Homo sapiens: one gene and its partners. The protein of the gene in region 6 purifies or fractionates together with the protein of the main gene of each other region. This does not show direct contact. Each region holds a gene or a part of one and is shown on either strand. Other genes may lie near its edges. The genes, in order: NOP58, TCOF1, RRP1B, DKC1, NUP153, NOLC1 and E2F3.

The links.
Region 1: the proteins of NOLC1 (region 6) and NOP58 fractionate together in Homo sapiens (co-fractionation; 3 studies listed by BioGRID, with this or other methods). This does not show direct contact.
Region 2: the proteins of NOLC1 (region 6) and TCOF1 purify together in Homo sapiens (affinity purification with western blotting; 4 studies listed by BioGRID and IntAct, with this or other methods). This does not show direct contact.
Region 3: the proteins of NOLC1 (region 6) and RRP1B purify together in Homo sapiens (co-immunoprecipitation; one large-scale study listed by IntAct). This does not show direct contact.
Region 4: the proteins of NOLC1 (region 6) and DKC1 purify together in Homo sapiens (affinity purification with western blotting; 2 studies listed by BioGRID and IntAct, with this or other methods). This does not show direct contact.
Region 5: the proteins of NOLC1 (region 6) and NUP153 purify together in Homo sapiens (affinity purification with mass spectrometry; one large-scale study listed by BioGRID and IntAct). This does not show direct contact.
Region 7: the proteins of NOLC1 (region 6) and E2F3 purify together in Homo sapiens (pull-down; one large-scale study listed by IntAct). This does not show direct contact.

What each region holds. Positions count from the first base shown.
Region 1 is NC_000002.12:202,271,754-202,276,076, reverse strand, and holds part of NOP58 (nucleolar protein 58), read right to left. Parts: intron 965-4,323; coding exon 888-964; intron 1-887. UniProt on the Homo sapiens protein: Required for the biogenesis of box C/D snoRNAs such as U3, U8 and U14 snoRNAs. Part of the small subunit (SSU) processome, first precursor of the small eukaryotic ribosomal subunit.
Region 2 is NC_000005.10:150,370,587-150,374,909, reverse strand, and holds part of TCOF1 (treacle protein), read right to left. Parts: intron 2,905-4,323; coding exon 2,674-2,904; intron 737-2,673; coding exon 524-736; intron 294-523; coding exon 99-293; intron 1-98.
Region 3 is NC_000021.9:43,665,551-43,669,873, reverse strand, and holds part of RRP1B (ribosomal RNA processing protein 1 homolog B), read right to left. Parts: intron 1-4,323. UniProt on the Homo sapiens protein: Positively regulates DNA damage-induced apoptosis by acting as a transcriptional coactivator of proapoptotic target genes of the transcriptional activator E2F1.
Region 4 is NC_000023.11:154,772,360-154,775,845, reverse strand, and holds part of DKC1 (H/ACA ribonucleoprotein complex subunit DKC1), read right to left. Parts: intron 2,716-3,486; coding exon 2,597-2,715; intron 1,245-2,596; coding exon 1,141-1,244; coding exon of another isoform or gene 1,137-1,140; exon of another isoform or gene 652-1,136; coding exon 573-651; intron 1-572.
Region 5 is NC_000006.12:17,696,299-17,700,621, forward strand, and holds part of NUP153 (nuclear pore complex protein Nup153), read right to left. Parts: intron 1-4,323. UniProt on the Homo sapiens protein: Component of the nuclear pore complex (NPC), a complex required for the trafficking across the nuclear envelope. Functions as a scaffolding element in the nuclear phase of the NPC essential for normal nucleocytoplasmic transport of proteins and mRNAs.
Region 6 is NC_000010.11:102,154,770-102,159,092, reverse strand, and holds part of NOLC1 (nucleolar and coiled-body phosphoprotein 1), read right to left. Parts: intron 2,075-4,323; coding exon 2,019-2,074; intron 1,908-2,018; coding exon of another isoform or gene 1,905-1,907; coding exon 1,765-1,904; intron 1,663-1,764; coding exon 1,538-1,662; intron 1,045-1,537; coding exon 879-1,044; intron 1-878. UniProt on the Homo sapiens protein: Nucleolar protein that acts as a regulator of RNA polymerase I by connecting RNA polymerase I with enzymes responsible for ribosomal processing and modification.
Region 7 is NC_000006.12:20,407,856-20,412,178, reverse strand, and holds part of E2F3 (transcription factor E2F3), read right to left. Parts: intron 1-4,323.

The DNA of each region.
Region 1 (4,323 bases), on a different chromosome or scaffold from region 6:
ATGAGCCACCACACCAGGCAACAGTGTCATCTTAAGCAAGGTTTTCTTATCTGGTAAGGGAACATACTAGTGTGGTCCCTTAAATATACATACAAATACGAAGATTTAGGCCAGGTGTGGTGGCTCACGCCTGTACTCCCAGCACTTTGTGAGGCCGAGGCAGGCGGATCGCCTGAGGTCAGGAGTTTGAGACCTGCCTGACCAACATGGCGAAACCCTGTCTCTACTAAAAATACAAAAATTAGCTGGGCATGGTGGTGGGCACCTGTAATCCCAACTACTTGGGGGACTGAGGCAGAAGAATAGCTTGAACCCAGGAGGCGGAGGTTGCAGTGAGCAGAGATTGCGCCATTGTACTCCAGCCTAGGTGACAGAACAAGACTCTGTCTCAAAAAACAAACAAAAAAACCAAAGATTTAACATCTACACTAAGAATGAATCTTCCATGAAATTGTGATGAAAGAAAAAGTAGTTCATGCTAGTTTTGATGTTGCAAAACTCAAAAAGCAGGTTACAACCCCTGTGTGCGGTAAGTGCTTAGTTAAGATAAAAAAGGTATTACATTTGTGTGTGGAAGACACGAAGACAAATGTGTTCCTACTGACAGCAATCACATTTGGTACTATCCGAGGTTTAAAGTATCCACAGGGTCTTCTGGAACATAATCCCTGTGGGTAAGGGGGAGACTACTGCCTTCAAATTAATTGAGATGGCCTATATTCCAAGTAAAACATTTGTAATAATTAGGTTCATACCAAAATTATTCCTGAAACAGATTTCAAAACAGAAAACTACGAATGTAACATTATATAAATCAGGGAAAAATGTAAAAAATAAAACAAGCCCTAAATGTTAACTGCTAAATTATTGATTTCAAGAGTACTTACATTTTGTTTGCTTTCTCTGGAGTTTCAAATTCTTTCCATAAACTATCAACCTCTTGAAGTTTCTTCTCATTTAGAACCTGTAATAAAATGTTTAAATAGTTTTATTTAAATGGTACAGGTGAGGCATATACAGCTGCATTCTTCAAATACAATTTTACATGTAAAATGAAGGTGTAGAAGCTATTTCTTTCACTAAGATAATGAACTAGTTTTCTTACCCTGCATGTAATTTTGGTCAAATTACTAGTTCGAATTGCCCATTTAACAGCTAAATGGAATTCAGATCTAGTCCAGTCAGCTGTAGTACAGTGGCTATTCAGTCTAGAATCTACCTGGCCTCAAGAGATATTCCTGCCCCAGCCTTGGGCCGTAGCTGGAGCTATGGGGTCCTAGGGGGTAGGGCAGGGAACCTTTCTTTTTATTTTTTTGAGATGGAGTCTCGCTCTGTAGCCCAGCCTGGAGTGCAGTGGAGCAATCCTGGCTCACTGCAACCTTCACCTCCTGGGTTTATGAGATTCTAGTGCCTCGGCCTCCTGAGTAGCTGGGATTACAGGTGTGCACCACTGCACCTGGCCGAGAACCTTTCTTTTAAAAGAGCCATTAATCCCTTTACAGTAAAGTATTGTAATCATTAAAAACTTTAATTTGCGCCAAGCATGGTGGCTCACATCTGTAATCCCAGCACTTTGGGAGGCTGAGGCAGGCGGATCACCTGAGGTCAGGAGTTCAAGACCAGCCTGATCAACATGGAGAAACCCCGTCTCTACAAAAAAAAAAAAAAAAAAAAAATACAAAATTAGCTGGGCGTGGTGGCACATGCCTGTAATCCCCGCCACTCGGGAGGCTGAGGCAGGAGAATTGCTTGAACCCGGAGGCAGAGGTTGCAGTGAGCCGAGATTGCGCGACTGCACTCCAACCTGGGCAACAAGAGCAAAAAACTCCATCTCAAAAAAATAAAACAAAAAACAAAAAAAACTTTTGTCTACTTTCAATAGATTATATTCGTTATTTACTGCTATGATCATCCTAACATGAAAGTATTATGGATTTCTCTAAAACTATCGTCAATTGTGAGACACATCTAGATGTGAGAAATTTTTTAAATGCAAAAGAAACATAGGGTACTTTAATCAACAATATACTTATCAACATTTAGGTATATATTCTCCAAGACTTTGAATGTCTGTGCAACACATGTTCATGCATACTTTTAGGAATCACAGTAAATGGCTTTTTTTTTTTTTTTCTGAGATGGAGTCTCACTCTGTCGCCAGGCTGGAGTGCAGTGGCGCAATCTCGGCACACTGCAGCCTCCGCCTCCCGGGTTCAAGCGATTCTCCTGCCTCAGTCTCCTGAATAGCTGGGATTACAGGCACGCACCACAACACCCAACTAGTTTTTGTATTTTTAGTAGAGACTGGGTTTCACCAAGTTGGCCAGGCTGGTCTTGAACTCCTGACATCAGGTGATCCACCTGCCTCGGCCTCCCAAAGCGTTGGGATTACAGGCGTGAGCCAACACACCCAGCCGCCTTGTATTGTTTTGAAGCAAGACCTAGACATTTAATTTTTACCTGTTAATATTTCAGTTTGTATCTATAAAATATAAAGACTTGTTTTAAAACTAGTACTGTTGTAACAACAATGCTAAAGATTGCAATGGTAATAGTTGTATACTATTTCTACTTAGAAATGGAAATTATCTTAAAATGATAAAACTTAAAATGGATTTCTGTATACAAATATTTATCATTACCCTGGCTGAAAAGAAATGATTAAAAATTTGAGACAAATAAAAACTTTGAGACAAATGTAATACAGAAAATGTAGCAATATCTCTAACTTTCTTATTTAGATGGTCTTTATTAGCAATGTTTTCTTCAAGATGTTGCAGTTGGGAACACAATGGTTTTATTTGTCATAGTAATGGTTTTGGCTGACATAACATAGTCTTTGAAGACCTTTGTGTGCTCATGAATTGCCCTGATTTTATCACATTTCCTTTGTTATTTTAACTTCAGTTTTAGAATGGTGATAGTATTTTTTAATTAATTTATTTATTTATTGAGACGGAGTCTCGCTCTGTCGCCCAGGCTGGAGTGCAATGGCAGGATCTCGGCTCACTGCAAGCTCCACCTCCTGGGTTCACGTCATTCTCCTGCCTCAGCCTCCAGGACTACAGGCGCCTGCCACCACACCTGGCTAATTTTTTGTATTTTTAGTAGAGATGGGGTTTCACCGTGTTAGCCAGGATAGTCTCGATCTCCTGACCTCATGATGCACCCACCTCGGCCTCCCAAAGTGTTGGGATTACAGGCGTGAGCCACCCCGCCAGGCCGAAAGTATCTTTTAAATATGGCAATTTTGTTACCCAAATGTTATCTTCAAATATACTTGCTTTTCAGCTAGAAAAAATGTGAATTTTACTCATGAGTCATATCCCCTATTTGATACATGTCCTCTTAAAAATAGTGAACTTCAGTTATGGTTAGCTGCATTCTCTGAACAATTTCAAAAAATTTTAATCAGTGTTTTCAGTATAGTCATGAGACTTGGTGAGGTGTCTCTGGATTCTAAAACTTCATGATATACAAAGTTAGAGCTATTAGTTTATAAATTGTTAATACCAACTCTAGGCTTTGTAGTTGTTTATTGCTTTGTGTGACTCTAAGTTTTTCTAGTTTGGGTTATTTTTACCAACATATCTAATTCAACCATGTGTGATTAAATTTATACAGGCTGGGCACGGTGGCTCATGCCTGTAATCCCAGCACTCTGGGAGGCTGAGGCGGGCGAATCACGAGGTCAGGAGATCGAGACCATCCTAGCTAACACGGTGAAACCCCGCCTCTAACTAAAAATACAAAAAAATTAGCTGGGCGAGGTGGAAGGCGCCTGTAGTTCCAGCTACTCGGGAGGCTGAGGCAACAGAATGGCGTGAACCCCAGGGGGCGGAGCCTGCAGTGAGCTGAGATCGCGCCACTGCACTCCAGCCTGGGCGACAGCAAGACTCCGTCTCAAAAAAAAAAAAAAAAAAAAAATTATACATCAGAACAAACCCCTAAAATCATCTTGTCACTCATCTAAGTTTTATACAACTTGCAACATTGTGTTTCTCTTACTGAAAATAATATATAACCAGACTAGAACTGCGTCTTAATGTGTAGATGTGCTATATTATGGACTTGATAAATAATGCTTATTAGCAAAGTATAGTTTTAAATTTACTAGCTGTGTTGTTTTTCCAGAGACAGGGTCTCGCTTTGTTGTCCAGGCTGGAGTGGAGTGGTGTGGTCCTATGTCACTACAGCTTCAAACTCCTGGCCTCAAGCGATTCTTCTGCCTCGGCCTCCCAAGTAGCTAGGACTATAGGTGCACACTGCGACATCTAGCTCTTTTAAAAATCTTTTTGTAGAGACAGGGGCTTGCTTTGTTGC
Region 2 (4,323 bases), on a different chromosome or scaffold from region 6:
TGTGGAGACAGGAGCTGGATGTGGCAAAGGTGGCCACACCCATGCAGGTGCTGGGGTTTAGGCATGGGGCTACTCTCCACCCCTCCCCTCTGCCTCACCTGAGCAGGCGCCTCCTCCTCACTGTCCGATTCCTCGCTGCTGCTCTGCGAGTCCTCCTCCCGCTTCCCCGCCTGGGCCTTGGCAACTGCAGGCCCTGTCTTCCCAGGGGGCGCTGGGGCAGCTCCTTTCCTGGGGGACTCCTTGGCAGGGGCTGAGGCAGCTCCGACCTGAGAGGTTTTTCCTGAGGCCTTCGCCTGGAGAAACAAGACAAGGGGAGACAGCCCAGAGGATGGACGTGTGAGGAGACACAGGACACCACGTACAGAAGACCAGATAGGGCAAATGATGCCACACAGTGAGAGGGGAGTAAGGGGCTGGGGTCTGAGGCACGCCCGGGGCTCTGGCCCAGAGTGGGAGAACAAGTCCTGAGAAGGCCTTCTGGGGACGGGCCTGGCTGCATGGAGTCTCCCTCCTCAGGCCTCACCTGAAGCAGGGCCTTGGCAGCTGGCGTCTCCTCCTCACTGTCAGATGACTCCTCGCTGCTGCTCTCTGAGTCCTCCTCTGGCTTCCCTGCCTTGGTCTGGGAGGCTACAGCCCCTGCCTTCCCAGGGGGTGCTGGGGTAGCCCCTTTCCCAGGGGTCCCCTTGGCAGGGGCTGAGGCAGCTCTGACCTGGAGAATTTTTTCAGAGGCCTTTACCTGGTGAAAAAGAAAGGGCAGCTTGCTCTCCTGCTTGTGAAAACTCTCTGGTGATGCCTTTAGGATAAAGTCCAGAGGCCTTAATGAGGCTCCTAAGACCTCCCCTGCTTCCCTCCCCACTCCCCACCTTGACTGATACTTTGGCCACACTGGCCTCCTGGTTTCTCAAAAATCGATCAGCTTCACACACTCTCACTCCTGGAGCCTCCATGCCCCCTGTTCCATTTCACTTAGCCACTGCCTCCTCTGTCTCTGGCTCCCTAAGAGACACCACTTCCTTAACATGGTTCCCCCTGGTGCCCCAGCACACTGGGTAGTTAGAGCCTGTCCTCTGCTGGGCTCCCACTGGCCAGAGAGCTCTGGAGGCACAGGCACTGGCTTATCGGGAGCATCATCAGACTGGGCTGTGGGGAGGGGGTGTGCAAAGGCCCAGGGAAGGGAAGGAATGAAGAGGCAGTCTGAAAGTGGGGAAGGGACTGAGGGAGGCCCTCACTGGACTTTCTGCACATGGACAGCAGCAGGACCCCTGGAAGCCCACCCTCAGCCTCATGGGGCAAGGTTTGCACACCTGGCCCCCTCTTCACTAACTCCTCGGTGGGGCTCTGCACTGTCTTGGGGCTTTGGCAGGGTGGCTGCAGGCCCTGTCTTCCCTGGAAGGCCCTGGGTGTTCAGCCCTGGGCCAACAACCCTAGAAAACAGCAGCTCTGATCTTCTAAGAAGCTTCTCATGCAGAAAGTGCAGGCTGCTCCACACAGGTCTTGCTTGGCTAGCTCCTTTTTAAATTTTTGAGCCAACATGGAGAAAGCAGATTTTACATAAAAGTTCACATTTATGGCCAGGTGCGGTGGCTCATATCTGTAATCACGGCACTTTGGGAGGCCAAGGTGGGAGGACTGCTTGAGTCCACAGCTTGTGAAACACAGTGAAACCCTGTCTATACACACACACACACACACACACAAGCTGGGTGTGGTGGTGTGTGCCTGTATTCCTAGCTACTCAGGAGTGAGGCTGCAGTGAGCTATGATTGCCGCTACTGCACTCCAGCTTGGGCAACAGAGCAAGACTCTGTCTCAAAAAAAAAATTCACATTTGTGTTCCTTCTCAAAGTGGATGCCCATCCAACACTGTGTAGCCCCCAGACACTGCAAAATAGACAGCCGAGGCGTAGAAGTTCCCTGTAGATGGGGTGGGAACAACAATTTGTCACAATTCGTAGTCCTACTTCTACCTCAGGGCCTTGACACTTGCTGAGCCCCTGCCTGGAATGACCTTCCTAAGAGTGCTTCCTCCTTCTGGTCTTTACTGAGACGCCTTCTCCCAAGGCCAGCCCAGAGCACTCTGCTTCAAGTTGCCATTCCTATGTCCCCCACTTCCTCTTTACCATTTACCAGCAGCTAACGCAGGGGATCTGCTTATCTACTGCATGCCCCCGCCTTGTCCTGCCCCAGGCCTGGGGCTGGGTGGGTGACCCTCACTCTTCCTCCTTCCTGCTCTGACTTCCATTGCTTTCCAGCCCCCCTGTCTTGCCCTTGGGATACACCCAGGGCCTTGGGGCTGCAGCCCTGCCCACTCCCAGCAGATGGGGAAGGGAACTGGATTCCCTTTAGCTAACGTAGTGTTTGCCTGCTCAGGGTCTGGTTTGTCCTGAGAAGTCAGAGGATTAGGCAATCAAAACTTCTCAAGTCCCTCACAGCAGGACTGGCTGGGACGAGGACAGCGGCCCATTTACTAGGCAGAGAAACTGAGGTAAAGTTGGTCACAGACAAAGTGGAGTGCAAGACTCCCCTGTGGGAAGCAGGCTGTTCTTGCTCTTCAACTTCACACCATAGTCCTCCCTCTCCCCAACTCCAGTGGCAGAGGTGCTCATGGCAGAGTGCTCAGGCTGCTGGGGGACCCGCAGGTCCTCCAAGGGGCAGCCCTCCTCCAGGCCTCACCTGGCTTCGTGTCCCTGCAGGGGCCTCCTCCTCACTTTCAGATCCCTCCTCACTACTCTCTGACTCCTCTTCTGGCTTCTTGGCCCTCTTGGCTGGGGGCAGGGCCCCTCCTTTGACCTGGGGTGTCACATCCCCCACCTTCCCAGGGGCTGGGGCCGCCTTTCTTGCTGGAGACTCCTTAGTAGAAACTGATGAGGCTTTGACCTGGGCTGGTTTTACTGAGGGTTTCCCCTGGAACAAGAGGATGGAATTAGAAAATGAATAATAATTACTGTTTCCCCCTAAGGTTCTGTATTAGGGGCTTCAGCAGTTGATAAAGCTCTTTCCTAATGTCACTGGATTTTTAAGCAACTCCCTGAGACGGCTATTAGCTTTAGATCCATTTTCCAGAAAAGTACACAAGGCTTAAAGAGGTAAAATCACTCATGATCAATATGAAGGGACAGAGCCCCACTGGAACCCTGGACTGTCTGACTTTGGAACAGATCTCAAAACCATTACGTTCATCTCCCACCTGGCACACACCGGGCTTGGCCTGAGAGAAGGGCTTGCATCTCAATCAGGAGAGCGCATCCTGTCTGCCCCTTAAACTCAAGTATCTGATCACAGCAGCCCTCCTGAGGGCCAGGAGTTCAGGATGTGAACACCACCTCTGCCACTGGCTTGCCACACCTTGGGCAAATTCCTTCCCTCTGTGAGCTCTTTCCTACACTTCCACAATTCAGACATTTCCCAGGCAGTCAGTGCCCTACTTCTACCTCTGAGATCCATCAGACCCCTTGCGGCCCTGGGTTTCTGGGGCGTCTGCTACTGGAGCTCTGCACAGCCTCAGCCCATTGAGGTTGTGTGTTTATGGAGGGCTGGGAGTGGTCTTCTTCCCTTTGGCAAGGCCTGGGGTGACAGAAGCCAGGGATGTCCTTACAGCTGGTGGTATCTAGGGCGCAAGGGTGAGGACGGAAGGTGGAGGGCAGCCCTTGGTAAGGCCTGGGGTAGATGGGGGTGAGCTTTCAACCTTCACAGGGTTACTGGGCCAGGCAGCACAGTAAAGTGAGAAGTTCCCTGGGCACCAGATCAGTTCATCCCTGACTTGTGCTGGTTTTCCCTTGAAAACATCTTTCCAACTGTGGACACCTTGGTCTCCCAGCCCCCAGCCTCTTATGCCAGTATCAGTATTACTCCAATAGTCTCCTACATGGTCTTACTGCTTTTATTCTGCACTGCCCTCCAACCCAGGCTGCAGCCAGCAATCTTATTAAATGCAAATCAGGCCATCTCTCCTTGCTGGCATGGCTTCTCACAGCCCCTAGAATAAAACCCAAATTCCTTATGGTGGTCCTCAAGGTCAGACAGAAGATCTGGCCCCTGTCTACCTAGGACTTCATCTTGTGTCACTTTCCCCATAATTTATTTGTTTTTTTAAAAAATAACATCTTGTAGAGACAGGGTTTCACTATGTTGCTCAGGCTGGGTTCAAACTTCTGGCCTCAAATGATCCTCCTGCCTTGGCCTCCCAGAGTGCTGCACTTACAGGTGCGAGCCACCGTGCCTGGTTTCTCCCTCTCATTTAAAGATCAAGGTTTTGGCCAGGCGTGGCGGCTCATGCCTGTAATCCCAGCACTTTGGGAGGCCAAGGCACATGGACCACTTGAG
Region 3 (4,323 bases), on a different chromosome or scaffold from region 6:
AAACAATACAAACATCTTAGAGTCTATGCATCTCTTTTCTTCAAGTTTAGAAAGTGGTGAAGTATCACATACATTTTAATTCTCTTTCGTTTGCACGTCTTTTTAAAAAATTGAAGCAAACATTTCCTTATTGTTATAAAAGAAACACAAATAAATTACTACTGTACCTGCAGCTTTATCAGCTACAGGGTAGGGTGGCAGTGGTGGCCCGGCCTCAGCGTGAGGAAGCAAATGTCATCACAACACAAAATTCATGAACAAAGTGGCCACTTATGAAATCGGCTCCTCATCAACGCCCTCCCCGCCCACCACGTGCAGCCATCCTGCACACTGACATTTTCGCTGGTCTTGTGAAGTAAAACTGCAAATCTTACAAGAGATGCGGGGGACCTGCTCAAGTCATATGAAGCCCCAGCAACGGGCAGCCCCACTTCCGAGGAACAGAAAACCAGCCAGGCTGAGGACACAGGAGCTCCAAACAGTACATCTGAAAGTCAAAGGCCTAGGAAAGGGCCTGGGGACACTGACGCTGCTTTGGAATATTTTTGCAAAAATTACCTTTTAAGGATCCTAGTATAAGGTCAAAAGTGGCTGCCTCCCAGTCACCCTCCCTGTAACGGTGATCATTTACTGTGGCATCACCAGGTTGGCTTTGTCAATCACCCTCCCTGCAACGGTGATCATTTACTGTGGCATCACCAGGTTGGCTTTGTCAATCACCCTCCCTGCAACGGTGATCATTTACTGTGGCATCACCAGGTTGGCTTTGTCAATCACCCTCCCTGTAACGGTGATCATTTACTGCAGCATCACCAGGGTTGGCTTTGTTCTGACTCTAGCTACTCAGGGCTCTACCTCTGCCTTCATGATCTATGATTGAGTGACCAGTCTCGTTCAGCCTTAAATCTCCTGAGTAGACCCCAGGTGTCATAAAGTATTTGCTGACTGACATAAAGAATCACAAAATGATAAGGTAGGTGTACAGTCTTGGAGTTTCCGAGCCTATGGATACATGAAATTAGAACACAAACAGAATCCTCAAGTCTTGATGTGTGTTACAAATGGTCTTTATTAGGATTTTACTAGGAGATCCTAGGAGAAATCTTTTGGAGCAACAAAGTGCTATAAACTAGATGAATGCAAACAAATATTTAGAATCAATGTGATCTTAATACTCCAAAAGATGCTTAAAAAGTGACAAAAAGGGCCAGACGCGGTGGCTCATGCCTGTAATCTCAGCACTTTGGGAGGCTGAGGTGGGCGGATCACGGGGTCAGACGATCAAGACCATCCTCACTAACACAGTGAAACCCCGTCTCTACTAAAAATACAAAAAAAATTAGCCGGGTATGGTGGCGGGCGCCTATAGTCCCAGCTACTCCAGAGGCTGAGGCAGTAGAATGGTGTGAACCCAGGAGGTGGAGTTTGCACTTTGCAGTGAGCTGAGATTGCGCCACTGCACTCCAGCCTGGGCGACAGAGCGAGAGTCCGTCTCTTAAAAAAAAAAAAAAAAGTGACAAAAAGACCTTTTAATGGACCAAAGTTTGTTTAGTGTATTCAGAGTGCGTTAACCTTAATTTACAGGTATTGATTTCCACTTTGCTAAGGGTCTTTCTCCCATCAACAATTTTATAATGGTACATTTTGATTCTTTTTTTTTTTTTTGAGATAGAGTCTTGCTCTGTTGCCCAGGCTGGAGTGCAGTGGCACAATCTAGGCTCACTGCAACCTCTGCCTCCTGGGTTCAAGCGATTCTCCTGCCTCAGCCTCAAGAGTAGCTGGGATTATAGGCGCGTGCCACCACGCCTGGCTAATTTTTTGTATTTTTAGTGGAGACAAGGTTTCACCATGTTGGCCAGGCTGGTCCGGAACTCCTGACCTCAGGTGATCTGCTGGCCTCGGCCTCCCAAAGTGCTGGGAATACTGGCATGAGCCACCACACCCGGCCTGCATTTTGATTCTTTTATGATAGTTTTCCATGTAAAACCAGGATATCAGGAACTAACATAAAACTAGTTTATTAAAGTATATTCCCTTTCACAGTTGGAGAGAAGATGTACCAACTGGTTCTCTTGCCCTCTTGTTATGAACAAGTCATGCCTGGGGATCCTCACGTGGATAATGTAAGTATGGTATGAGTAATAAACCCCACTAGAGCTGAGCCAACTGCGGTCATGATTGCAGTAACTTTTTTTTTCTTGGCCACAGTGACCTGCACTTATATTTAATCATGTTCAAAGACCACATATATCCCCAGTGAATTGAAGGCTTTGGGCAAGGATCATAAATAGCTGCTAAAACATTAGATGAAAAGATATCACCCAGGCGTGGCGGCTCACTTGAGCTCAGGAGTTTGAGACCAGCCTGGGCAACACAGCAAAACCCAATCTCTACAACATTGTACTCCATGGAGCTTGGGCGACAGAGCAAGACCCTGTCTTAAACACACACACACACACACCAACAACAAAACCAAAAAATTGGCAGAGCATGGTGGCATGTGCCTGTAGTCCCAAGTACTCAGGTGGCTGAAGTGGGAGGATGACCTGAGCCCAGGAATTTGAGGCTGCAGTAAGCTATAATCGTGCCACTGCACTCCAACCTGGGCAACAGAGCAACTCTGTCTCTCAAACAAACAAACAAACAAACAAACAAACGATATTAAGAAACTTGAAAGTGGATGTGTCAGACCATCAACACCCAAACCCACCGACCGATCATTAACATGCACAGGCAATAATCACGCATCAGATGCCAGAGGTGATGCCAACAGGAAGAACGCTGCACCAACCTATGAAGTATTCTTACAAAAGTAAGTGTCAAAAAAAAAAACACCCAACTGTGTCAAATCTTAACTATTAATATTAGTTTATAGGAAATACAGGGGACAGAGGAACATGGTAAGTGAGACAACAGGATGCAGTCAACAAACCCCAAATATGTGAAACTCTACAAGGCATATGACCTATGTCCCCAACAAATAAACTGTACAGAAAAAGATGGGTAAGAACTGTTAGATTTTAAGAGCGTCTTGGCAGACATATTAACCAAATGCAGTGGGTGGTCCTCATTTGGATTGCTCATAAAAAACATTTGATGAGAAAAACTAAACAGATTGGATATTTCATGCTATTAAGGATTTTTTTTTTTTTTTTTTGGAGACAGTTTCACTCTGTCGCCCAGGCTGGAGTGCAGTGGTGCAATCTCGGCTCACTGCAACCTCTGCTGCCCAGGTTCAAGCGATTCTCCTGCCTCAGCCTCCCACGTAGCTGGGATTACACGCACCTGCCACCGCACCCAGCTAAGTTTTGTAGTTTTTAATAGAGACGGGGTTTCGCCATGTTGGCCAGGATGGTCTCAGTCTCTTGACCACATGATCCCCCCACCTTGGCCTCCCATAGTGCTGGGATTACAGGCGTGAGCCACCAGGCCTGGCAGCCATGCTAGTTTTAAGGGGGAAAGTGAAGCACAACTTTGTGCAGGAGCTCAACTGCTGGTGCCAGCACCTTGTTTTTCTCCACTGCAACCTCTGCTGCCCCAAAGATTGTCTCCATTCTCAGACAGGCTCCACCTGTGTTACAAGGTGGCTGGGAGCAGGTACAAACTGTGTGTTCTCTTCAAGTCCAGTAAGGAGAGAGCTAGAAACTCCTAAGGACTGAGCAAGAAGATTTTTACCTGCAGAGGGTCACTTGGCTTTTCTTGAACCTGTCCTGTGGCCAAGGGAATTCTGCTGAATTGGCAGAAGCCGCCGCCTCTCCACGTGGGGTAAGCCCCACCCAGACCACAGAGTCCCTCCACACCCTGCTTGAAGGTGGAGAGCCTTGGAGGGAAATCCCAATGTAGCTGCCCAGCAAGGACAAGGAGTGCCCTGAGCCTGACCCCATGCAGTAACCTGGGTCCTTCAAATCCTCTCTTTGGGTTTAAGCTGGTTAATGCTCCTGCACTTCCAGTTGCATCACTGTCTTAGTCTGTTGCGCTGCTATAAAGGAACACCTGACGCTAAGAGGTTTATTTGGCTCGAGGCTCTGCAGGCTGTACAAGCATGGCTCCAGCATCTGCTTCTGGTGAGGACCTCAGGGAGTGTCCCATCTTGGCTGGAGGGGAAGGGGAGTTGTCATGTCACATAGCAAGGGAGGAGGAAGGTGCCAGGCTCTTTAACAGTCAGATCCCACAGGAACTAGGAGTGCGCGCTCATTTAATCCTGAGAATGGCACCAAGGGTTCCGCTGGAACCCAGGAGGCGGAGGTTTCAGTGAGCCAAGATCGCACCACTGCACTCCAGCCTGAGCGACAGAGCAAGACTCCATCTCAAAAAATAAACAAA
Region 4 (3,486 bases), on a different chromosome or scaffold from region 6:
CTCCCACACAGCCTGTGCAGGATACTCAGTACCGCCCCCGGTTTCTGAGTGCAGACCTGTCATTCTGTGCTCTAATGCCAGCAGCTCCATGGGGTGGAGTTGCCAACCCATGCTTGACTGACTCTTTCAACACTGGGTGGTGCCAGGTTAAGATGCAATTCTGCTCTCTGCTGAATTTTGTATGGCCTCGAATGTCCAACAGCCATGGCCTCTGATTTCAACACATCTGTCCTACCATTTGACCCAGGGCGGGGGCCAGAATTGACACACACACCACCACCCATTCCATCACTGTGTTGCTGCCATAGCTGAGGTAGGAGTCGAGGCCCATCTGATTCCTGAGCCCACATTCCTCCTCCCAGCAGATAGGACAGAGAATACAAATCAGAGGAGCCTGCAGAGCCCAAACAAGCACCCCAGGGTATGAGGCAGCATTACCTGTGTATGCGCTGCACCTCTGATGCTAGCGTATATGGCTGGACTGCGGACAGTCACAAAGTAAGACGAATGCCAGTGCCTCTTAGGATTATCTCCCTAAGCACATTCCAAACTGAGGACAGCATGCCACTCACCTTCGCAGTTTTTGCTGCTTCGGCAACTACCTGCGGGGCTTTTACCACTTCAGCAACCACCTCTTTTTTGGCAGACTCACTGAAAAAGAGGTAGCAATAGGTCAAATTCACTGAATGGCTTTCCAGGGCAGTACTGATGTTATGTAGTGTTATCTGGCAAGTCTAAAGCCACCATCAAAATACTGACGCTGGACAGAAGAACTCACCACTTACTGTTGCAGACTGACTCCCTCTAGAGTCCCACGAGCCAGACTAGAAAGGGATAACTGTCTGCCGTGCAGGCCCACACCCCTAACTGGCCTGGGCAGCCAAAATCTCACGGGAGCTGAAGAGCTGGTTCCTGTGGTCCTGCATTTAGCAAGTTTGCCCCAAACCAAGTGACTCCCCCTCCCCTGGGCTCTACAACCTCCATGCTCACCTGTTCCTCACCTGTTGTCCATGTACTCCTGCGTCCAGATGGCAAGTGGGCTCTACCTTCCCATCCTCACCTGTTGTTGACATACTCCTGCATCAAGGCAGCAAGTGTGCCGTCTCTACCCACCCCGGCTCTGAAACATCCTGCCCTCACCTGTAGTCAACATACTCCTGCTTCCAGGTGGCAGGTGTGCTGTCTGTGGGCTTCCCATGCTTGTCCAGAAGGCCCTGCTTGATCATCAGCTTCTTCTGACTTGCCTGGTGGAACATCAAGGTGTCAACATTAGAATGGTGTCAATGCTGGAAGCGGGCATGGTGACTACAAAGAATAGAACAAGGTTCCTCCCTGGTGTATTCTCAGCAGGGCCTCAAACTCCTCTCCAGAGCATTCAGAATTTGCCCACTAACTCCAACACACACAGGACTTGTTGAAGATCACAAAGCTTATTAGTGAGAGCCTCTGCAGACATAACGTCCCCACCGCAGCCACTCTACTTTTTTGCCTTTGCACATGCTGCTTGCTCCCAATGCCCTGAACTCTCCCCTCCCCTCTTCACTTCACCAACACCTAACCCACTCTTCACACCGGTGTGGCTTAACAGACAATCCCTTGACCAGACTCCTTGACCACTGTGGACACTCCAGGTGACAGACACCTCTCTGCACTCCTTGGTAGCCACTAACGTGCATGAAATTCGCCATTCCACTGTGTGATTACGTGAGTAATGCCCAACTGTTTCCCCTCATTAGACTGAAATCTCTAAGGCCCAAGACAGGGCCTGTTTCCACTCATCGACAACCCAGAGCCCAGCACAATACAAGGCTGTGGTGGTGAAACACACCAAGAGCTGCCCAAGTATTCAACAATGCCAAACAAAAGAACCTGGCAGGAGCCGCCCCATCCGGGAGGGAGGTGGGGGGGGGTCAGCCCCCCCGCCCGGCCAGCCGCCCCGTCCGGGAGGTGAGGGGCGCCTCTGCCCGGCCGCCCCTACTGGGAAGTGAGGAGCCCCTCTGCCCGGCCGCCACCCCGTCTGGGAGGTGTGCCCAACAGCTCATTGAGAACGGGCCAGGATGGCAATGGCGGTTTTGTGGAATAGAAAGGCGGGAAAGGTGGGGAAAAGATTGAGAAATCGGATGGTTGCCGTGTCTGTGTGGAGAGAAGTAGACATGGGAGACTTTTCATTTTGTTCTGCACTAAGAAAAACTCTTCTGCCTTGGGATCCTGTTGATCTGTGACCTTACCCCCAACCCTGTGCTCTCTGAAACATGTGCTGTGTCCACTCAGGGTTAAATGGATTAAGGGCGGTGCAAGATGTGCTTTGTTAAACAGATGCTTGAAGGCAGCATGCTCCTTAAGAGTCATCACCACTCCCTAATCTCAAGTAATCAGGGACACAGACACTGCGGAAGGCCGCAGGGTCCTCTGCCTAGGAAAACCAGAGACCTTTGTTCACTTGTTTATCTGCTGACCTTCCCTCCACTATTGTCCCATGACCCTGCCAAATCCCCCTCTGTGAGAAACACCCAAGAATTATCAATAAAAAAATAAATTTAAAAAAAAAAAAAAAAAAAAAAGAACCTGGCAGGGCACGCAACCCAGTACCACTTACCTTTGGACCTAAACCCCACTTCCGAGGGTAAGTGTCTCTCTCCATGATCACTCTCTTGATCTTGGCTACTATACCATGGTCGCAGGTAGAGATGACCGCTGTGGTCATTAATGCAATAGCTACAGGCATTGAATAAAGAAAAGAATTATTTGAAGGGTGAAAGAATTGATAATTGATGAGCCCCAATTCTACTGTTGTATGCCACTTTAAAACTTTTAAAACTCTGAGCTACTACTTTAATTGGGGTTACCTTTGCTCAGGATGTGCATATGGAGGAAATACTCCATTATGAGAAGGAGGCCTTTGAAATGACGTTAAACTTCTGAAGTTAAAAAACACCTAACCAAAGCACCTAACGATACACATAACAGGCTTGCAGCTCAAGACGTCTATAAGAACGGCATGCACACTCCCTTTGGGGCCACAGAACCTTTGAAGTTTTAAGGATTCCTTTTCTGCTGCTGTCCATAAGCCGTGGCTGCCTTGCCTGCTCACAGAGCTAAGGAATCCTGATGACATGCTTACTTCTGGTACAAATTAGACCCATTAAATGAATAGCTCTAAGGTTCATTCACTAAGAGGGTGCGCAGAGCATTTAAAGTCTTAAGAGACAATCCAACAGTAGCTAAGCTTTCACAAGTTAAAAAACACTGGTACTTTACATGGAACCACAAAAGACTCAAAATAGCCAAAGCTATCCTAAGCAAAAAGAACAAACCTGGAGGAATCACATTACCTGACTTCAAATTATAGTATAGAGCTACAGTAACCAAAACAGTATGGTACTGGCATAAAAACAGGCACATAAACCAATGGAACAGAATAAGGAACCCAGAAACAAATGCACACACCTACATTTAACTCATTTTTGACAAAGGTGCCAAGAACAT
Region 5 (4,323 bases), on a different chromosome or scaffold from region 6:
TTATGGAAGAAAAGGTTCCTTTGACCTTACTACCAAGGAAGGCCCAATGTAACCCACCTATGTTTTGAGGAGTTCTTGAGAGAAGAGTTCTTCAGGTCTTTACAGGAAATAAGCAGGCATGAGGGAAATAAGCTTTCTGTATGGACCTGAAAAGTGCTTTAAGATTTAAAAACAAGGCCAGGCACGGTGGCTCACGCCTGTAATCCCAGTACTTTGAGAGGCCGAGGCGGGTGGATCACAAGGTCAGGAGATCGAGACCATCCTGGCTAACACGGTGAAACCCCGTCTCTATTAAAAATATAAAAAATTAGCTGGGTGTGGTGGTGGATGCCTGTAGTCCCAGCTCCTCGGGAGGCTGAGGCAGGAGAATGGCGTGAACCCGGCAGGCGGAGCTTGCAGTGAGCCAAGATGGCGCCACTGCACTCCAACCTGGGCCACAGAGCAAGACTCCATCTCAAAAAAATAAAACAAATAAATAAAATCTTAAAAAACAGCCAGGTGCAGTAGCTTACGTCTGTAATCCCAGCACATTGGGAGGCCGAGGTGGGCAGATCACTTGAGGTCAGGAGTTTGAGACCAGCCTGACCAACATGGTGAAATACCATTTCTACTAAAACTACAAAAATTAGCTGGCAGGTGGTGTCCGCCTGTAATCCCAGCTACCCAGGAGGCTGAGGCAGGAGAATCACTTGAACCTGGGAGACGGAGGTTGCAGTGAGCCCAGATCACACCACTGCACTCCAGCCTGGGCTACAGAGCAAGACTCCGTCTCAAAAAAAAAAAAATTAATCTTAAAAAATACTCTGTGGCCCTAAAGCAAAGTCCACACTTCATAATCATAAATAATAAATTTAAGTTCAAGGATTAAAGGAGTGAATTTTAGAATGTGAACTGGCTAAATCCACTGGGTATTCTCTCTCCAAGAAAGAAGGGTTCTTCATTTGGCAAAACATGTCAAAAATGCCACTGAGATTTAGACTAATTAAAAATTCAATCTGGGGATTAGAATTCAATACTACATACATATCAGGAACATTCAACGTATAAGGTATTGTGAATACATTAGCTTTTCAAATTATATTTAACCTGAGTTGAAGGATTAATGAGCTGGGCGCAGTGGCTCATGCCTGTAATCCCAGCACTTTGGGAGGCTGAGGCAGACAGGTCACCTGAGGTCAGGAGTTCAAGACAAGCCTGGCCAACATGGCGAAACCCTGTCTCCATTAAAAAATGCAAAAATTAGCCAGGCGTGGTGGCAGGCACCTGTAATCCCAGCTACTTGAGAGGCTGAGGGAGGGAGAATTGCTTGAACCCAGGAGGCAGAGGTTGCAGTGAGCCGAGATCACATCACTGCACTCCAGCCTGGGCGACTGAGCGAGACTCCATCTCAAAAAAAAGGATTAATGAAAGGCAGCTGGGGTGGGGGCAGGCTACTCTATAACACTAACTCAGAAACAGCTGGGGTGGGGGAAGGCTATTCTATAACACTAACTCAGAAACAGCTGGGGTGGGGGAAGGCTATTCTATAACACTAACTCAGAACTCACTTGTAATTAACGACATTCTTTTCTTATAAACCTTTTCACAGGAATAACCAGAGGCATCTTTTCAGTATGGCCAACTCCTTGTCATTCCTATATATCCTTCCTTCCTTCTATACAAAGCTCTTTTCTTCCTACTAGTTTTCTTGACTTCAGTTCTGTTCAACTCCCTTTTCTTCACATTATCCTTAGCAGTGTTCAGATTATAAAATCTCCTTTCTCAAATAGTTTCACTGGATCTTTAACTATAAATATCAAATGCAGTCCATCATCAGTTTTAAGGTTCTGGAATCTTATTCTCCCAGGGAGCAGGTTTTTAATTCTTCAGCTAGAAAAGTACTTTAAATGGCTAGAGGACTTGGACTGATTGGATAGGGTAAACTTCGCTGCTGAATGGCATAGGCTTATAAAATACAACCAATAATGTCTTAGATTTGGATGTTAAATTCAGATTATTGAAACTAGATTCAGGTCCAAGCACCGTGGCTCACGCCTGTAATCTCAGTGCTTTGGAGGCCAAGGCAGGGGTTCTGCTTCAGTCCAGGAGTTGGAGACCAGCCTGGGGAATATGGCGAAACCCTGTCTCTACCGAAAAAATACAAAAATTAGCTGGGAGCAGCCGGGCGTGGTGGCTCACGCCTGTAACCCCAGCACTTTGGGAGGCCGAGGTGGGCGGATCACAAGGTCAGGAGATTGAGACCATCCCGGCTAACATGGTGAAACCCCATCTCTACTAAGAATACAAAAAATTAGCGGGGCGTGGTGGTGGGCACCTGTAGTCCCAGCTACTTGGGAGGCTGAGGCAGGAGAATGGCGTGAACCCGGGAGGCAGAGCTTGCAGTGAGCCGAGATCGCGCCACTACACTCCAGCTTGGGCGACAGAGCAAGACTCTGTCTCAAAAAAAAAAAAAAAAAAAGAGCTGGGAGCCTGAAGCAGGAGAATCACTTGAATCCCAGAGCGGGGCGGAGGTTGCAGTGAGCCAAGATCGTGCCATTGCACTCCAGCCTGGGCAACAGAGTGACACTGTCTTAAAAAAAAAAAAAGAAAACTCAATAAAAGCTCACAGTAGTTAAACTCACTAAAAGTTACCTACAAGATACTATCACACTTTTTCTCAGGTAACATGTTTGAAAATTGGGAGTAAGAGTTTGTTTCTTAAATCACACTAAGAAAAAGATATGCAAAATCAAGCAAACTGAAATATCTATAGATAGAAAAGGCATCCTATCATCCTGTTTCTGACAGTAAATGGTATGTGTCAGCAAGACTTGAAACCAAACTTCCCAACACAGAAGAATCTTTTAAAAATATATTACAACCATGAAGATAAGCTAAATAGCTACAAATAATTTTTTTTTTTTTTAAATACAAGCTAGCTGGGCGTGGTGGCTCAAGCCTGTAATCCCAACACTTTGGGAATCTGAGGCAGGCAGATCACAAGGTCAGGACTTCAAGACCAGCCTGGCCAACATGGTGAAACCCCGTCCCTACTAAAGATATAAAAACTTAGCCAGGAATAATGGTGCGTGCTACTCCAGAGGCTGAGGCAGGAGAATTGCTTGAACCTGGCAGGCGGAGGTTGCAGTGAGCCGAAATCGCACCATTGCACTTCAGCCTGGGTGACAGGGCGAGACTCGTCTCAAAAAAAAAAAAAAAAGAAAATACAAGATAATTACAATCTTTGCAATACTCTGTGCCTAATGAAAATGGTTTTGGCTGGGCAAGGTGGCTCACGCCTGTAATCCCAGCACTTTGGGAAGCCGAGGAGGGCAGATCACTTGAGGTCAGAAGTTTGAGACCACCACACCAACATGGTGAAACCCCGTGTCTACTAAAAATACAAAAATAGCCAGGCGTGGTGGCACACACCTGTAACCCCAGTTACTCAGGAGGCTGAAGCAGGAGAATCCCTTGAGCCTGGGAGGCAGAGACTGCAGTGAGCCAAGATCACAGCATGGCACTCCAGCCTGGGTGACAGAGCTAGATTCTGTCTCAAAAAAAAAGAAAAGTAAACAGTTTTAATTAGTGACATCAGACTACAATTTTTATTTTACTTCAAACTAAGATATCTGCCTTGTCAGGGACTTCCCAGAAAATGGATACAGCAAGTGGACTTTTTTGTCACTTATTAGAAAAATTAAGTAAATTAATATAATACCACACAAAACCTCTCATCACAAACAAAACACCTACTTTGCATTAAACAATTTAATACATGCAAGTATTGAATTTAGTCACCTAAAGGAAACAAAACTTCTGATAAGAAGCAGGAAAATTCAGAGACAATATGAAGACCCTAAATCAGGAGACTAATTTGAGTAATAATAAAACTGTGGTCTCCCACAAAAAAAAAGATCCTAAATCAAACAGTTCTATTTAATTTCAAATTTCAATTGCATATATATAATAAGGACTCAATTTTTAATAACTCCTTACCTATATACATATGCCAGGTCCTGTTCTAAAATCTTCACTTGTCCCATTTAACCTCCACAACAATTTTCACTTTACAGATGAGTAAATTAACTTGTCCAAGTCCAGGCAGAACAGGGATCCAAACTCAGGCTGACTCCATTACACTACAATGTTTTCCTAACAACTATCCTATCAACTATCCAATCCTATCAATGTTTCCATTTCTATTCCCACTGATTATATTAAGCATCTAGGATAAAGCAAATAAGGATAAAATAAAAGTTAAAAACTTGGTGACTTCTGGAATGATTTAAATATTCGACCTCTAAATATCCCTCCTTTTCAAATCTGAGAACACTCCAGCTA
Region 6 (4,323 bases):
TTTTTTTTTTTTTTTTTTTTTTTTTTTGGAGACGGAGTCTGGCTCTGGCTCTGTTGCACAGGCTAGTGTGCAGTGGTTCAGGCAACTCTCCCGCCTCAGCCTCTGGAGTAGCTGGGATTACAGGTGCCCACCACCATGCCCAGCTAATTTTTATATTTTTAGTAGACACAGGGTTTCGCCATGTTGGCCAGGCTGGTCTTGAACTCCTGACCTCAAGCAATCCGCCCGCCTCAGCCTCCCAAAGTGCTGGGATTATAGGTGTGAGCCACTGTGCCTGGCCAGGAGTCCACCAATTCTTTCAACTTTAGAGCAGCCATCGAGGAGAATGCCAGCCATGGTTTACCACATCAAAGGATACCTTTCCTATCCCATGGCAGGAATAAAACTGTCTTCTTAGAAAAGATGACATAAATAATCTCAATACGCCCTCTAAAATCTTTCACTTCAACCTCCATTCAGAGAAATAACCTAACCCTCATCACAAGTTACAGAAAAAAAGAAAAATTCTCATTTGTCTCATAGAATGAACATACAAGAGTAAAAATGGCAGTGAAAAGCACAACAAATAGATATTTAAGTGATTACAGTGGAATGGGATGTGTGAAAACATAAAATGTCTATGAAATGTCACAAAATACCAAATGGATACCATTAAAAAAAATACACATTTTTTCTTGCTGCAATAACTTTCTCTATTTACTAGCTCCTATGAAATCTTGTTATTTATTAGTAAAACCTTTAAAATTAAAAGACCAGTAATCAACACCTCCAGTTCAACAAACAGTACCATTTCACCCCTGTGCCAAATCGGCAATTTTAACTCCAGTCCCCAGAGCAATCTGGTCCCCAGCCCAGCCTCTTGGGAACAGAAACAGTACCTGGTTTGGGAGGGGCTTTAGTCTGAGCTTTAACTGTCACAGGTGTTATCTTTGGCTTCTGGTTCTTTGGTGGCTCATCCTCGGAGCTTGAGTCAGAATCAGAATCAGAGCTCTTGGCCTTCTTAGGAGGAGCTTTGGCTGCCTTGGCTTGGGGCTTAACTCCCTTCTGTTAGAAAAGACACAAGGAGAGAAATCAGCAAAAGCTTCCGGGTACCCAAAGGGCATCCTAGGTTCCTTTTATTTTTAGGGGCCTAATGGAGCAGTAAGAGCAAAAGAAAGCTAAGGACAGGATACGGAAAGGGCAAAAAACAACAAAGTTCAGCCACTTGATACACTGGCCCTGTTCCTGCCTTATCCTGCCAAAGCTCCCAGGAAAACACTCTCTCTTATTCTTGGAGCCCTGAATAGTGTCCCAGAAGAACCCAAACTCCTCAAGCAGAATGGGTTTAATTTCCTCTAGATTCGGAGCCTGACCTCAACCTCACACATCCCTTCCAGACCTCATACTTTTATCAGCTCCCTGAAAATCCCCAGATTTTCTTCCTCATAATCACCTATTGTATTGCCGCCATCACCCCTTGGTTACAAGCTAGAGGCCAAGATTTTAGGTTTCTTCCTTTCTAATCCTTAAACCCCTTTTTCTTCCCAAAGCTGCAAACCTGGACAGGCTGTTTCTTTTGGTCCTCCTCATCATCATCATCACTGGACTCTTCACTGCTGCTACTCTCTGATGCTTTGGCTGCAGCCTTCCCAGGAGGCAGACCGACTCGCTTGGCAGGTACAGCTGAACAAACACACAGGTCCCAGTAAGAATCAGCCATGTGAAACAAGCAGGCTGTAAATTCTTTTCCTGGCACCACCAAGCCCACCTGCTACTCTGCCTTACCAGCCTTCTTTGCTGGAGGCCCTTGAACTTCCTCCTCCTCCTCGCTGCTGTCCTCACTGTCACTGGATGAGGCCTTCTTCTTAGCTTTCTTAGCCACTGGTCCATTTGCCTGTAACTTTCGCTCTGGGACCTTGGCAGACCTGCTGAGGTAGATTGGACCAATTTCTAGGGGACTGGAATCTTCCCAAACCAAGAAACACAGCCCAGCCTATCTTGGGGGAGAAAATAGCCAAAATGGAACAGGAAAGGCTTACTTGAGCCAGAAGCTATAGATGTCTAAGAGGGAAGAGGCATTGGCATCCTGCTGTGTCTGTAGAAGAAAAAGAGCTGGGTAAGGAAATTATTTTATCCTGGTTATGCTTTCATTAAATGTGGCCTGTTACATACATAATTACTAAATTTGGTATAAATGTTACATCTTCATAAAACTTTTGCTACGTGCATAAATCAGGAGAAAAATATTCTATTTGTGGATTTCCCAATTTCTGATGTAAAAAACGGGCTACTCCTATGTTTGCGGCACCATCTAACCATCTAACCCCCTGCCTGCCAATCTATATTGATCAAAGTCCTAAAACAAAACAAAACAAAAAATCAGCCAGTCACGGTGGCTCATGCTTGTAATCCCAGCACTTTGGGAGGCCGAGGCAGGCAGATCAAGAGGTCAGGAGTTCAAGACCAGCCTGGCCAACATGGTGAAACCCCATCTCTACTAAAACAAAAATTAGCCCAGCATGATGGCAGATGTCTGTAGTCCCAGCTACTTGGGAGGCTGAAGCAGGAGAATTGCTTGAACCTAGAAGGCTGAAGCAGGAGAATCACTTGAACCTAGGAGATCGCGCCACTGCACTCCAGCCTGAGCAACAAGAGCAAGACTCCATTTCAAAAAAAAAAAAAAATCACTTTTGACTGGGCACAGTGGCTTATGCCTGTTATCTCATGTTATCTCAGCACTTTGGGAAGCTGAGACAGGAGGATCACTGGATGCCAGGAGTTCAAGACCAGCCTAAGCAACATAGCAAGACCCCCATCTCTACCCCTCTGCCAAAAAAAAGGCTCTCTCTTTACTCTAGCAATGTACTATCTAAGAATGTAATCTTATCCATTACTTGAGGGTACAAACACTAATACAAGAAGGTTTTTCCTGCAATGTGGATTATAATACCAAATCATTAGAAATAAGCCTCCAGGCGGGATGCAGTGGCTCACGCCTATAATCCCAACACTCTGGGAGGCCAAGGCGGGCAGATCGCCTGAGGCCAGGAGTTCAAGACCAGCCTGGCCAACATGGAGAAACCCTGTCTCTTAGCCGGGTGTGGTGGCAGGCGCCTGTAATCCCAGGTACTCGGGAGGCTGAGGCAGAAGAATCGTTTGAACCCCAGAGGCGGAGGGTGCAGTAAGCTGAGATCGCGCCACTGCACTCCAGCCTGTGCGACAGACCAAGACTCTGTCTCAAAAAAAAAAAGAAAGAAACAAGACTAGTAAGTACTGTATTGAATGTAAAGAACTGCATTTAAGGGCCAGGCACGGTGGCTCAGGTCTGCTGTAATCCCAGCACTATGGGAGGTCGAGGTAGGCAGATCATGATGTCAGGAGTTTGAGACCAGCCTGGCCAACATGGTGAAACCCCATTTCTACCAGAAACACAAAAAATTAACTGGGCATGGTGGTGCACACCTGTAATCCCAGCTACTCAGGAGGCTGAGGCAGGAGAATCGCTTTAACCCAGGAGGCTGAGGTTGCAGTGAGCCAGTATCACACCATTGTACTCCAGCCTGGGCGACAGAGTAAGTCTCAAAAAAAAAAAAAAATGCATTCAGGCCGGGCGCAGGTACGCTAACACTTTGGCAGGCCAAGGCAGGAGGATCACTTAAGGACAGGAGTTCAAGACCAGCCTGGGCAAGACAGTGAGACCTCCATCTCTCTCTCTCTCTCTTTTTTTTTTTTTGAAATGGAATTTCGCTCTTGGTCGCCCAGGTTGGATTGCAATGGCACTGCGGTTGCTTGGCCTGTGGTGGCTAAACGCCTGTAATCCCAACACTTTGTGAGGCTGAGGCGGGTGGATCATCTGAGATCGGGAGTTCGAGACCAGCCTGACCAACATGGAGAAACCCCGTCTCTACTAAAAATACAAAATTAGCTGGGCGTGGTGGCGCATGCCTGTAATAATCCCAGCTACTCAGGAGGCTAAGGCAGGAGAATCGCTTGAACCCAGGAGGTGGAGGTTGTGGTGAGCCGAGATTGCACCATTGCACTCCAGCCTGGGCAACAAGAGCGAAACTGTCACAAAAAAAAAAAAAAAAAAATTAGCCAGGTGTGGTGGTACATGTCTGTAGTCCTAGCTACCCCAGTGACTGAGGCAGGAGGATTGCCTGAGCCCAGGAGTTCGATGCTACAGCGAAGTATGATTGCATCACTTTACTCCAGCCTGGGCGACAGAGTGAGACCCTCTAAAAGAAACAAACAAACACAAAACAATACACAGAAGAGTACAGGATCAGGCCAGGTGCAGTGGCTCACGGGCCTGTAATCCCAACACTTTGGGAGGCTGAGGTGGGT
Region 7 (4,323 bases), on a different chromosome or scaffold from region 6:
GTCGACACCACACAACTGAGGACTAGATGAGTCTTGTTTTCTCCCTACCGCCTGTTTAGTCTTGCTTGCAGATCAACTTGTGTTTAAAGCTTGTCTCCTCAACAGACTGTAAACTCAAGAGTGGGCGGATCACACCTCATACTTCTTTTGTATCCCCAATAGGACTAATGGGGTACCAAGCACATGGAAGGTGTCTAATGAAAATGCCTCTTCTCAGGTAGCTGAGCCTATAGTGTAGTGGGCACTGCAGGGACCACATGATGAAAAAGCAAGCCAGACCGATTTCTTGGAGCTTACAGGTTTGGAGGAGGAGTAAGTCATGAACATGCAAGATTAGGCTACGAGGCAGACCATGAGGTGTTACAGGAAAGAAGCAGTAACCCAAGGGAAGGGAGAGGCCCAAGCCCCTGGGAAACTGGGGGAGGCTGTGCCTACGCCTTCCCTTGATGTGGGCCTCAATGGGCCAGTGGGAGGAGGGCAACAAAAGGAGTAAGGTGGAGAGGGAGAAGCTACGAGCAAACACACCAGAGGGAAATCTGCGGTGCCTGCAGCACCACACTGTCGCAGCAGCCGAGTGCAGAGGAATGGGAAGCAAGACCGAAAAGGCAAGATTTCACCATCCCTTGATGGCAGGAAAAGGTGGTAATTAATTTGGTAAGTCCGGGAAGCAGCCACTGAAGGTGGCAAGTCTGCTTCCTTCTAAGAGCCAGGCAGAGGGCAAGGCGAAGGGGAAGGGGTAGGAATAGATCTAACATAAAAAAGGAGGGGTGAGGAGATGAGAAGGGAAAAGGGAGGCCTAGAGGCAGGTTCCATTGCCTCTGGAGAGCAAGACAACCCCCCGCCCTGCCTTGATATACACACACTGGCAGGGGCTCCGAGTCTGGCAGGGCCCAGCAGCTCAGACACCCTGATTCTTGCCATTCAGTCTTAAGCCATGGTTTACTGTACAGGATTGAAATTATGTTAATAGTGTCATTCATGCTAGTAGTGTCACTTTATTAATACATTTAATCACAGAAATAAAGGTTTTATTCATGACACTATCACTACTGATAGCACTACTACAAGAAGCTTATTCTTCAGTTCTTTTTCCCAAGTCAATGGGCAGCTTATAAAGAAATACAAAGACCCTAGACCCTAAAGACTGCATTAGGCGAGAGCCATTCCACGGTTTACTTCTCCTTCCCATCATCACCATTTTTAGAGAGGTGCAATGGGGTGAAATGAACACTAAGGGCTAGTTAAGAAAATAGATCAGGCCAGGAACAGTGGCTCATGCCTACAATCCCAGCACGTTGTGAGGCCGAGGCGGGCAGATCACCTGAGGTCAGGAGTTCGAGACCAGCCTGACCAACATGGTGAAACCCCGTCCCTACTAAAAATACAAATAAAATTAGCTGGGCGTGGTGGCGCACACCTGTAATCCCAGTTACGGGGGAGGCTGAGGCAGGAGAATCGGCTGAACCCAGGAGGCAGAGGTTGCGGTGAGCCAAGATTGCACCATTGCATTTCAGCCTGGGCAACGGAACAAGACTTGGTCTCAAAACAAAAACAAACCAAGAAAATGGATCACAAAAGGACAGCCCATGAGATGCCTGTGGAAGGAAGGGCAATTATACCATGTTTCTACTTAACACATAATCCTTCCTACGTGCCAGACACTGGTCTAAGCACTTTACAAATAAGAACTCATTGCAACTTCCTAACCCCATAAGGTAGGTACTATCATTCCTCCCAATTTACAGATGAGGAAATGAAAACATAGAGGCCAAGTTTCTTGCCCAAAGTCACAGGGCTAGTGAGCAGAGCCAGAACAAGAACACAGGCACTCTGGCTCCAGGCTAAGTGGCCTGACCTTATACTCAGCTGCCCCTCACTATGCCTTTTAGGACAGGGTGCAGGTTATAAACACATGAGCCTCCTTCTCTCCAAGGGACTGCCAGATGCAGAAAGGCACACAGGAGATAGTGTGGGCCTCAGGGATGCTGCTCTGGTTATGTATCAGAAATGGAGCCCCCAAAGCATCAGAAATGGGGAAGAGCAGAGTGGAACGAAATATACAGACCCTGAGTTCACTGCCCATCATTCTCAGAGTCCAGAGCTACCACCCTTCAGGATCATAAAAACTAGAGCAGGCAGAAGCTCTCCTCAGCAGAAAGTCAAGAGGCATTCAAATCCTCCACTCTCTAAGACAAACTCTACTCGCCAAAAAACTTTCCAGAGGAAATCAGCTTCACTGATTACTACTCTCATCAGTTGGTACTTAATGCTCACTGGCTGTTAGACCGTATCTACACTGGGCACCTTTCTGGTTTGTGGATTACAGATAAGCCATATATCGCTGCCCCTAACGAGTCAGTGCACTACAGCCACGTTAGATTATGTTTCACTTTCAGGCCTCAGGGCTTGAAGCAATTCTATTTTTAAGCTTTCTCAGTTCCAAAAAGGAAAAGAAGGCATTTTAAGGAAATTAGCGTTGGCTAAAGGAATGACAATTTCCTCTTAAAGAGTTAACTGATTAGCCACTTTGCTAAACCAGAAATCTTGGAGCTAACCACAGAGGAAGAACACCTTGTTCAATGTTACTGGGCAAGGGCTGGGGACCTCTGAAAGCATGACAGTCACTCAGGATGTTGGTGGCCCAGGACAAAACTCCGTTACTACCAGAGGGGCACTGTGTGTCCTTCTCCCCAAGAAAGTCTCAAAAATCCTTTTAGATTCTATTCTCTATGAAGCATGTGTCACTTTTTGAGCAACAGAATTGATATAACCACAGAAGACAAATTTGCGAATATCAAATAAATCTTTAAAAATATTACTATCACGTTTTGAAGAGTCATTCTTTCCTTTTTTAAATAATTCCCTTTCATTTAACATCCAAAGTAGCCTTGCTTATTTTGTATCTTTGGGAATAAGTCATTACCCCCACAGCCAACTGTTTAAAGGACACTTCTTTATGTGCGCATTTTTAAAAAAGGTAACCACTCCTGAAGGAAATCTAAAATGTGTCCTACACACCCCAATTTTCCCATATAGGGTTCATGAGACACAGTTAACCTTCTCTTGGTGAATGAGGCTTCTAAGAATTCAAGAGTCTCCCGTTTCGGTTTTGGCTTTGCCACTAGCAAAGACCTGTGACCTTGGGCAAGTAATTTAACAGCACTGGGCCTGAATTTCCTCACCTGCAACATGAAGGGGATTGGGCAGATGAGGACTCTTGTGCCTTACACTTCTCAAATGTTATGATTCCAAGACCAGTGTAAATGCCAACTATTGCCCATGCCAACCTAGAATATCGTTCTCAGGGACTGTCAAGTTCTAAGAATGTTGTCTAGACCACACAAATGGCCCCAGAGAGTTGGGCTACGGTAATGGAAAGCAGACTAAAGTCAATTATTTTTTATTCTTTTTGTCCCCTTTCTATTCCATCAGCTGCCAATTCTCACTGCTTTCTACCTCGAGCTGACATAAACCCCTGCCTTAGTTTACAAAGCTAAGTGGGGGCCTGCATCACTTAGATTCTTCATCAAAGCAAAGTGCATCTGGCTGTGTGATACAATCTGGCAACCAGTGGCCTTCATCACTTCTCCTTCAAAGTTACATTGCATTGGATAGGAGAGTATTTGAGGGCAAAAATTATATTTTTTAAAAGTTATATTGTAGACAAATATGGTGGCCATAAGACTGACCCCCAGTTAAGGTTGGGGAAAGAACGTACATTCCTTGAATTCCAAAAACACATTGCTTTTAGAGGAGAGGGTTTGAAACAAGTGTGAACAGAATATAAACCAATTTCCCTCTTATTGAAATAGAAACTCGGTATGTTATCCCTCTATAATAATCCCCACTCTGTAAGTTTCCTGTCCCCAAAGGCAGTTGTTGCTTTTTAGTACCTTCTGTGGTATAACTTTTCTTTGTGAAAGATACATTTTCCTCGTCACTTTCTGAAGCCAAAGAGAGGGTCAGGGTAGGAAGAAGGAGACACTATTAGTGGTTTCCTATATTTACTGCTTTCCCAGTTATCTTCCATTGTTAAGTCCCATGAACAATGATTAGTAGAAAAAATGCTTTTTAGCAATCGTGAATACAGTCTCTGAAACATTATTTTTAAACTGCTAACAAGAATGAAAATATGCATTAAACCACGTACTTAGTACCTCAAAGAATTCAGGGAAGATTCCCCTTTTTAAAAAACAAAATTGTGAAATCTACCTTCTTTACCTTGCTTTCACCACGTTTTACCTTGCTTTTACCACCTTTCAGGTGGCTTCATGGGAATTTATCAGGGATCTGGTGAGCATAGGCAATTGATTTTGACTCATC